Linked DNA regions of Homo sapiens: region 1 is linked to region 2. The links come from fine-mapping of genetic effects on gene expression. A gene starts in region 2. The other region holds a variant in brackets. All regions are shown on one strand. Distances are from middle to middle. Region 1 overlaps DNM2 (dynamin 2). Region 2 holds the start of DNM2 (dynamin 2).

Evidence for each region. PIP is the estimated chance that this variant, and not a neighbour inherited with it, causes the effect.
Region 1: its variant is the best candidate, but not a certain one, in a credible set for the expression of DNM2 in whole blood (TOPMed, PIP 0.62).

The regions. Positions count from the first base shown.
Region 1 is chr19:10,781,730-10,786,115 of GRCh38, reverse strand. DNM2 (dynamin 2) reads right to left here. Exons shown (of 21, transcript NM_001005361.3): 6 at 2,996-3,156. Among named protein-coding and RNA genes, the nearest start is that of MIR4748, 3.7 kb to the right of the region's middle. The variant C/T (reference allele first, on the strand shown) is at 2,064.
Region 2 is chr19:10,716,444-10,720,829 of GRCh38, reverse strand. It overlaps DNM2 (dynamin 2), which reads right to left and starts at 2,751. Exons shown (of 21, transcript NM_001005361.3): 1 at 2,427-2,751. The coding sequence starts at 2,587. MIR638 (microRNA 638) reads right to left here and starts at 2,426; the gene lies at 2,327-2,426. RefSeq lists enhancers at 1,593-1,732, 3,173-3,292, 3,483-3,672 and a silencer at 2,223-2,892.

The DNA.
Region 1 (4,386 bases), 65 kb before region 2:
AAAATAGACAAATGTGGGCCAGGCATGGTGGTACACACCTGCAATCCCAGCACTTTGGGAGACTGAGGCAGAAGGATCACTTAAGATCAAGAGATCGAGACCAGCCTGGCCAACACAATGAAACCCTGTTTCTACCAAAAAATACAAAAATTATCTCGGTGTGGTGGTGGGTGCCTGTAGTCTCAGCTACTTGGGAGGCTGAGAAAGAACTCGGGAGGTGGAGGTTGCAGTGGGCCGAGATCACACAATGGCACTCCAGCCTGGGTGACAGAGCAAGACTCTGTCTCAAAAAAAAAGAAAAAGAAAAACAAAGCCATAAAATCAGCCTATACTTGCAAAGTGTAAAGCAGAGTTTGGCCATCTGTCCTACAACAGAGAAAGCTGGGTGCAGTGGCTCACGCCTGTAATCCTAGCACTTGGGGAGGTTGAGACAGATCACTAGAGGATAGGCGTTTGAGACCAGCCCAGGCAATATGGTGAGACCTTCTCTCTACAAAAGATAAAAAAAGTTTTAAAAATTAGCTAGGTGTGGCAGCACACACCTGTAGTCCCAGCTACTCAGGAGGCTAAGGCAAAAGGATCGCTTGAGTACAGGAGGCTGAGGATGCAATGAGCCGTGTTTGTGTCACTGCAATCCATTCTGGACAACAGAGTAAGACCTTGTCTGAAAAATCAAAAAGGCTGGGCATGGGCCGGGGGCAGTGGCTCACACTGTAATTCCAGCACTTTGGGAGGCCAAGGCAGGCAGATCATGAGGTCAAGAGATCAAGACCATCCCAGCTAACACGGTGAAACCCCGTCTCTACTAAAAATACAAAAAAAAAAAAAAAATTAGCCGGGTGTGGTGATGGGTGCCTATAGTCCCAGCTACTCGGGAGGCTGAGGCAGGAGAATGGTGTGAACCCGGGAGACGGAGCTTACAGTGAGCCGAGATTGTGCCACTGTACTCCAGCCTGGGCAACAGAGCGAGACTCCATCTGGGGTTGAGGGGAAGGCCGGGATGGGTACAGTGGCTCACGCCTGTAATCCCAGCACTTTGGGAGGCTAAGGCGGGCAGATCACCTGAGATTAGGAGACAAGCCTGGCCAACATGGTGAAACCCTGTCTCTGCTAAAAATACAAAAGTTAGTTGAGTGTGGTGGCGCACGCCTGTAATCCCAGCTACTTGGGAGGCTGAGGCATGAGAATCACTTGAACCTGGGAGGTGGAGGCTGGAGTGAGCTGAGATCATGCCACTGCACTCCAGCCCGGGCAACAGAGTGAGGCTCTGTCTCAAAAAAAAAAAAAAAAAAAAAATCATCAAAAAAATAAAAAATAAATACAAAGTGTCTGGCGAGCTAGAAAAGAGGCATGAAGGAACCTCACATCTATGGCATGGAGCAAGTGGGGTAACCCAAAGACCTCCGTGACCAAGGGTCCCTGCCCTGCAGCCCTGGCCATCGACCCCCGTCTATGTGGGCTGCCTAGAAAGGCAGGGAGCTACGCTGGCCTTCCCTTGGTCTGTGACAGGATACTAGGGCACTTAAGTCATGAGCAAATGGAGAGGAAGGGGCGCTGCTGCTCTGGGAAGCACCCCACGTGGAAGGAGGCTGAGCCCCCTCCAGGCTCCCTGGAGGCCAGCTGGACTTTTCACTGCTGGCTCTCAGGAGGCCCCAGCCAGCTGCGGAGTTTTACTTCCCTTCCTCTCCCTACTCCCGTTTGTAAGCACCCCAGCTTCCTCTCCTGGAGGGCCCCTCCCTCTAGACACTGACTTCCCTCTTTGCTCTCCTGAGCTGCCTTCTCTGGGTGGCTCTTTTCCCGGCCCCCGCGCCCCTACTGGATTCTTGATCGTGCATTTATCTGGCGGTTTGTTGGGTGTCAGTCTCCCCCATTAGAATTATGCCTTCTACAAGGACAGGAACCTACTCTCGTGTGGACACTGTGTCCCCCTGATATGTGCATGAAAAGATGACTGCTGGAGTGCTGCTGAGGCCCTGCTGCCACCCTGGAAGGTGCTAGAAAACAGCGAGGAGGAGCGTCTTGCCCCTGCTACCACACACTGGCCCACTGTATAGCTTTTAATA[C/T]CATTTCTGTTTATGCACCATGTGAATCAATTACTTACAAGAAGAGAACGATAGGCCAGGCATGGTGGCTCATGCTTGTAATCTCAGCACTTCAGGAGGCTGACACAGGCGGATCACTCGAGCTCAGAATTTGAGACCAGCCTGGCCAACATGGTGAAACTCCATCTCTACTAAAAATACAAAAATTAGCCAGGTGTGGTGGCACACGCCTGTAATCCCAGCTACTCAGGAAGCTGAGGCAGGAGAATCACTCGAACCTGGGACGTGGAGGTTGCAGTGAGCCAAGATCATGCCACTGCACTCTAGCCTAGGTGACAGAGTGAGACTGTGTCTCCAAAAATAAAAAATAATAATAATAATAATAATAATAATAATAAATAAAAAAGAGTTATTAACCCCCTGTCACCAACCCCAGGCAATGCATACAGTCTTCTGGGTAAATGACTGAATAATTACAATGATAATTAAAATTTTGGTAATAATAACAGTGATGGTTGTAATAGTAGCAGCACCAAGTCACTGAACATCTGCTCTTCACCAGACCCTGAATCAAGTACATTTCTTTTATTTAGTTATTTAAGTTTTTGAAACAGGGTCTCACTCTATTGCCCAGGCTGGAGTGCAGTGGCATGAACATGGCTCACTGAAGCCTTGATTTTCCAGGCTCAAGTGATCCTCCTGCCTCAGCCTCCTGAGTACCTGGGACTACAGGCATGTGCCACCATGCTTAGCTAATTTTTTCTATTTTTCCTAGAGATGGGGTCTCCATATGTTGCCCAGACTGGTCTCAAACTCCTAGGCTAAATGTGGACTGAACCCATTTTGCTAAAACAAGTGCTGCTCTAGCCTGAAACAAGTGCCAGTGAGGATTGCAGCTGTTGTGCAGTGCACAGCCTATGCCACTGCACACTACGTGCAAACCCTTGCAGTACCTGATTCAGCGTCTTCTGCAGATGTGGCGTGCCCATGCGGTCGGCCATGTGCCGGTAGGCCGGGTGGGAGAGGAAGAACTTCCTCTCAGCTGCCAGTGCTGCACGGATGTCCTTCTTGCCCTCAATATCCTTCTGGCTGCGGTTCACCACGCCAATGTAGCCTGTGGGGAGAGGCAGTCAGGTCAGGGGCAAAGCTAGGTGAGCCAAGTGGACCTGGCACGGGGATGGGCAAGATTCAAGTATAGAGATGGATCCTGTCCCACGAGGCACTCACAGCTGTCATAACATGTTACTCAGAAACAACACAGAGGGTGCGAATGCACATGGCAGCTGCGAAGAGCAACATTAAGTATTTGGAGGAAGGAGAGCTCACATCCAGCCTGTGTGCGCAGGGACAGAAAAAAGCTTTGGGGCAGATGAAATCTACAAGCTGAGATTCAAAGATAGGTGAGAAAAAAATCTCGGCCGGGAGCGGTGGCTCACGCCTGTAATCCCATCACTTTGGGAGGCTGAGGTGGGTAGATCACAAGGTAAGGAGCTCGAGGCCACCCTGGCCAGCATGGTGAAACCCCGCCTCTACTAAAAATACAAAAAATTAGCCGTGCATGGTGGCGCGTGACTATAGTCCCAGGTACTCGGGAGGCTGAGGCAGGAGAACCGCTTGAACCCGGCAGGCGGAGGTTGCAGTGAGCCAAGATCATGCAACTACACTTCAGCCTGGGCGACAGATCAAGACTCTGAATAAAAAGAAAGAGAAAAAGAAAAAGAAAAAGAAAAAAAATCTCAAGGCCAGGTGCGGTGGCTCACGCCTGTAATTCCAACACTTTGGGAGGCCGAGGCGGGTGGAACGCTTGAGCCCAAGAGTTCCAGACCAGCCTGGGTAACATGGCAAAACCCCATCTCTACAAAAATATACAAAAATTAGCGAGGCGTGGTAGCACACGTGTATAGTCCCAGCTACCTGGGAGGCTGAGATGGGAGGATCACCTGAGCCTGGGAGTTCGAGGTTGCAGCAAGCTGTAATCACCCCACTGCACTCCAGCCCGGGCAACAGAGCGAGGCCTTGTCTCACAAGAAAAAAAAGAAATAACATCTTAAAAACAAGAGCAATAGGGAAGAGCTAAAATCCACTATCAAACGAGTATATTTTAAACAGTTGGGTACATCAGGGTATTCATGTCCAGAGAGATCAATGGAACTGAAAAGAAAGTCCAAAACTACACCGAGAAGGAGGTAGAACTGAAAGTTAACGCTTCAGTATATGGGGGAGAAAAGCTGGATAATTCAATACACACTGTTGCAAAGAATCCAAGTGGAATGCCTACCATTGCACTCCTGGCTAGGTTTTTGTTTTGTGGGGTTTTTTGTTTTGAGACAGAGTTTCACTCTTG
Region 2 (4,386 bases):
AAGGAACCAGCCAGATAAACAACAATAGCCCCATCCATGTAGACCTACTATGTGCCAGGCAGTGCGTTAGGTAAGTAAGCACTTTTTCTTTTCTTTTTTTGAAACCGGATCTGGTTCTGTCACCCAGGCTGGAGGGTAATGGTGCAATCACGGCTCACTGCAGTCTGGACATCCTGGGCTCAAGCAGTCCTCCCAGGGCCAGCCTCCTGAGTTGCTGGGACTACAGGTGTGGGACTACCACCCTACCTGGCTAATTTTTTTATTTTTTGTAGAATGGCATCTTGTCATGTTACCCAGGCTGGTCTTGGAACTCCTGGGGCGAGGCTTGGTGGCTCACACCTGTAATCCCAGCACTCTGGGAGGCCAAGGCATGAGGATCACTTGAGGTAAGTAGTTTGAGACCAGCCTGGCCAACATGGTGAAACCCCGTCTCTACTAAAAATACAAAAATTAGTTGGGCTTGGTGGTAGACGCCTGTAATCCCAGCTACTCGGGAGGCTGAGGCAGAAGAATGGCCTGAACCTGGGAGGCAGAGGTTGCAGTGAGCCAAGATTGCTCCACTGCACTCCAGACTGGATGACAGAGGGAGACTCTGTCTCAAAAAAAAAAAAAATAAATAAATAAATAAAATAAAATAAACTTGTTTAGGAGAGTCAACCAAGACTTAGAGAGGCCAAGACAACCTGTGCAAGGTCACAAGGCAAGTGAAAGAGACAGAGCTTTGCAAACACCCCCCACCCCCGTCCCAGAAGCCTGGGCAGGCAGGAAGATGGTCACTCAAAGGGGCCCACACCACAGTCCAGCCTGAGATCAGGCCAGGCCCAGCTGGCTGCAAGTCCACACCTTTCCACCACGGTAGACAGAAGGCAATGAGCTAGAGACAAGGTAGCAAAAGAGGAGATTTGTGCTGCTTGGAGCAAAGCCCCAAGGCTCTGGGATGGCAGACACAAGGCCTTACGCCAGCCTAGTGGCCTTGGGTGATCACAGTCCCTTCTGAGCCTCCCAGCTCAGCTAAGGTGGGGATGATAACACAGCCTCCACCCCACTCCTTACTTGGGATTCAAGATGTTGAATCAAGAAGGGACATTATCCCTTGACAATGATAACAACAATAACAATGACAATAATGACAGGAGGAGGATGTTATCATTTGGCAGCCACACCACCACAAATGAGTAGTTCCTGGAATGGAGAAGTGGCCGCCCATCTGGGAGACAAGAAAGGCAAGAGGGGTTGGTGGGAGGGAGAGGTGGCTGCACGGGCTGTTCTCATTCATTTGCTTCCTGAATCCTGGAAACAGCCCCAGAGAGTGGAGTTTGCCCACTGGACAGATGGGCACACCGCGGCTTCTCAAGGCTGTCCAGAGAAGGCTACATCCCAGCGCTAGCCACTGAGGCCTGATCACGCAAGAAGCCCCTTCCCAGGCTCCAAAGGAGGGCCCCCAATTTGTAGGCTGTAGCTGGGAGGCGGGCCCCTGTGTTCTAGCACTCGGAAAGGAATCCTGAAGTAAGGTACCCCCAGAGTCCTCCTTCCAGCTGAGAGGGGAAGTAGGGTCCAAACCTCCTCCTTCAGCTCTGTTCTCCCCTCTACCCTCCTACCACCCCTTTCCAGAGCCGTTGTGCCAGACACTCAGGGGTAGTCATGGGCAGACTAGGAGATGGCCAGACAGACAGAAGAATTCACACGGAAGAGAGGAGCCAGCGCTAGCCAGGAATCAAGCTGTAAGAGTCAGCCAGAGAGAATCAAACAGGGTCCCCTAGGAGTCAGCTAGCCAGTCAGACAGTAGAGGCCAGCTGGTGTCACCCAACAGAGGGACTGCTCAGTGTTAAAGTCTGTGAGGGGCACGGATGGGCGGCCAGACAGCAGAGGTCACCCTGGACAGCTAGCCAGACAGCAGGGGGCTGCCAGGTGGGACTGGACAGATGGACAACCAAATGGTGGTGGCAGGGAGGCTTGCCCAGGACAGAGAGACAGCCAACCAGACGGCGGGGGCAGCTCCAGATACAAGAACAAGCCAGCCAGACCGCAGCGGTCGCCCCAATAGATATCTAGATGGCCGGTTTCACCTCTGATGGACAGCCCGAAAGAGCAGAAGAGGGATCTACCCCAGACCCACGGCCAACCAGATGGCAGACTTCACCCACGAAAGCTGGGACCAGATGGACCGCAGGGTTCCAGCGCACCTCCTGTCCTACGGCGCCCTGGCCCGTGACACCGCCCCTGGGGCCCGGGCCTGCTCCGGAGCCCCTGCAGGGAGTCCTCTGCCCAGGGCGTCCCACAGGGCCCGCCTCCCCGACCCCGTCCGGTTCCCCGCCGCGGGCACGCAAGCGCCGCAGTTACGCCGGCGGCGCACGGCGCGCCATTCCCGGTCCGCCCTCCGCGCCCTAGGCCGCCACCCGCCCGCGATCCCTGCCGCGCCCGCTCACCGGCCCACGAAGTTCTCCAGCACCGAGCTCTTGCCGGCGCTCTGGCCGCCCACTACAGCGATCTGCGGCAGGTCCAGGTGGCAGCTCTGGCCGATGGAGCTGAAGGCGTCCTGCAGTTTGTTGACCAGCGGGATCAGCTCTTCCATCCCGCGGTTGCCCATGGCGCCGGCGGCCCCCGGCCCGAGCGCCCTGCGCTCCTCGCCCGCCGCCGACCCTCAACGACCTGGCCCCGCGGCGTCTGTAGCCGTTGCTCCCCGCCCGCCCGGGCCTCGGCAAGACGCCCGCTCCCGGCTCGGCCTCACGGTCGCCGCCTCATCCGGTTCTCAGGCGACACCCGACCCGAGCGACCTCCCGCCCCGGCCCCGGGGGCTGCGCCCAAAGCACTCGCGCCGCACGCGACTGGCCTGCTGCACCGCCACTCGGATACACTAGCCAATAAAAACTAGGCACGGGCCTATGGTTGAGTAAACCTTCCCCCTGGGGACCGTCTTGCTGACTTATTGGACAAAAGAACCGTCACTGTTGTGCAACAGCCAATAGCGGCAGAAAGCAAGTTGTCAAGAGAGGAAGGGGGTGTTTCCGAAAAAGGCACGTTGGCTCTGCCCATTGGCGAAGTTCCACCATCTTATTGGCAGGCAGACGTGCCAGTAGACAATGTGGACCAATGGTGTTGGGGATTGAGCTACTACCTCGTTCCCTAAGAATTTCCCATTGGTTCATATAAATATCACTTCGTTGCTCCAGCCAACCAGGCAAAAGAGGGCGGGCTTTAACATCCGAATCTTGACTATCATTGAGAACCATATCTGTCAATCAGAAAAACTCCCGTTCTTCCTTGTGATTGTTGGATGTCTGCAACAGCCTTCTGAAGTATAGGATAGATCCCACCGTACTCGCTCAAGGGCGACACCTCGTGGTGGGATCCGATGTCTCGATTTTTGAGTTTCCTGGCACTGGGGAAAACTACAAGTCCCAGAGCGCATCTCAGTTCCCAGACTGCAAACCAGCTCTGGGAGCAGGGTCCCAATGCGCTCTGCAAATGGTAGAGGCCAAGTCATTGCTTCCTAGGGATAGAACGCAATAAAATCACTCCTCCACGCCTTTGCAAATGCTGTGCCCTTTCTGCTCACGCCCGATCTTGACGCCGCTAACACTCCAATGTTTTCCCCCACTTCTTCAACTTTAGCAGATCATGAATCTTTTTTCTTTTCTTTTTTTTGAGGCGGGGTACTCACTCTGTCACCCAGGCTGGAGTGCAGTAGCGCGATCTTGGCTCACTGCAACCTCCGCCTCCCCGGTTCAACCAATTCTCCTGCCTCAGCCTCCCGAATAGCTGGGATTACAAGTGTGAGCCACCACGCCCAGCTAATTTTGTATTTTTAGTAGACGGGGTTTCACCATATTGGCCAGGCTGGTCTCGAACGCCTGGCCTCAAGTGATCCGCCCGTCTTGGCCTCCCAAAGTGTTGGAATTACAGGTGTGAGCCACCGCGTCTAGCTAATGAATCTTCTTTTCTTAGAAACTGGGTCCTTACTCTGTTGCCCAGGCTGGGGTGCAGTAGTGCACTCATAGCTCAATTCAACAAGCACCTGGGCTCAAACGATCCTCCCGCCTCAGCGTCCCGAGTAGCTGGAACCACAGACGTGCGCAACTATGCCCAGCTAATTATTTTTATTTTATTTTTTATAGAGACAGGGTCTTGCTGTGTTGTCCAGGCTGGTCTCAAACTCCTGCGCCCAAACGACCCTCACAGGCCGGCCTCCCAAAAGTGCTGGGATTACATGTGTGAACCCCCCCAACTGGCTTTAGATCTTTTTGAGTACCCACTAAAACTCAACAAATCCTCTCCCCGTGAAAAGACACGCTATTTTGTAGGCAAAATTGGGGTTCTGGGAACTGGAACTCCTGACAGTGGACAGAGACAAATAGGAGGATTTGAAGTGTTTTGACCCCTCTGGAG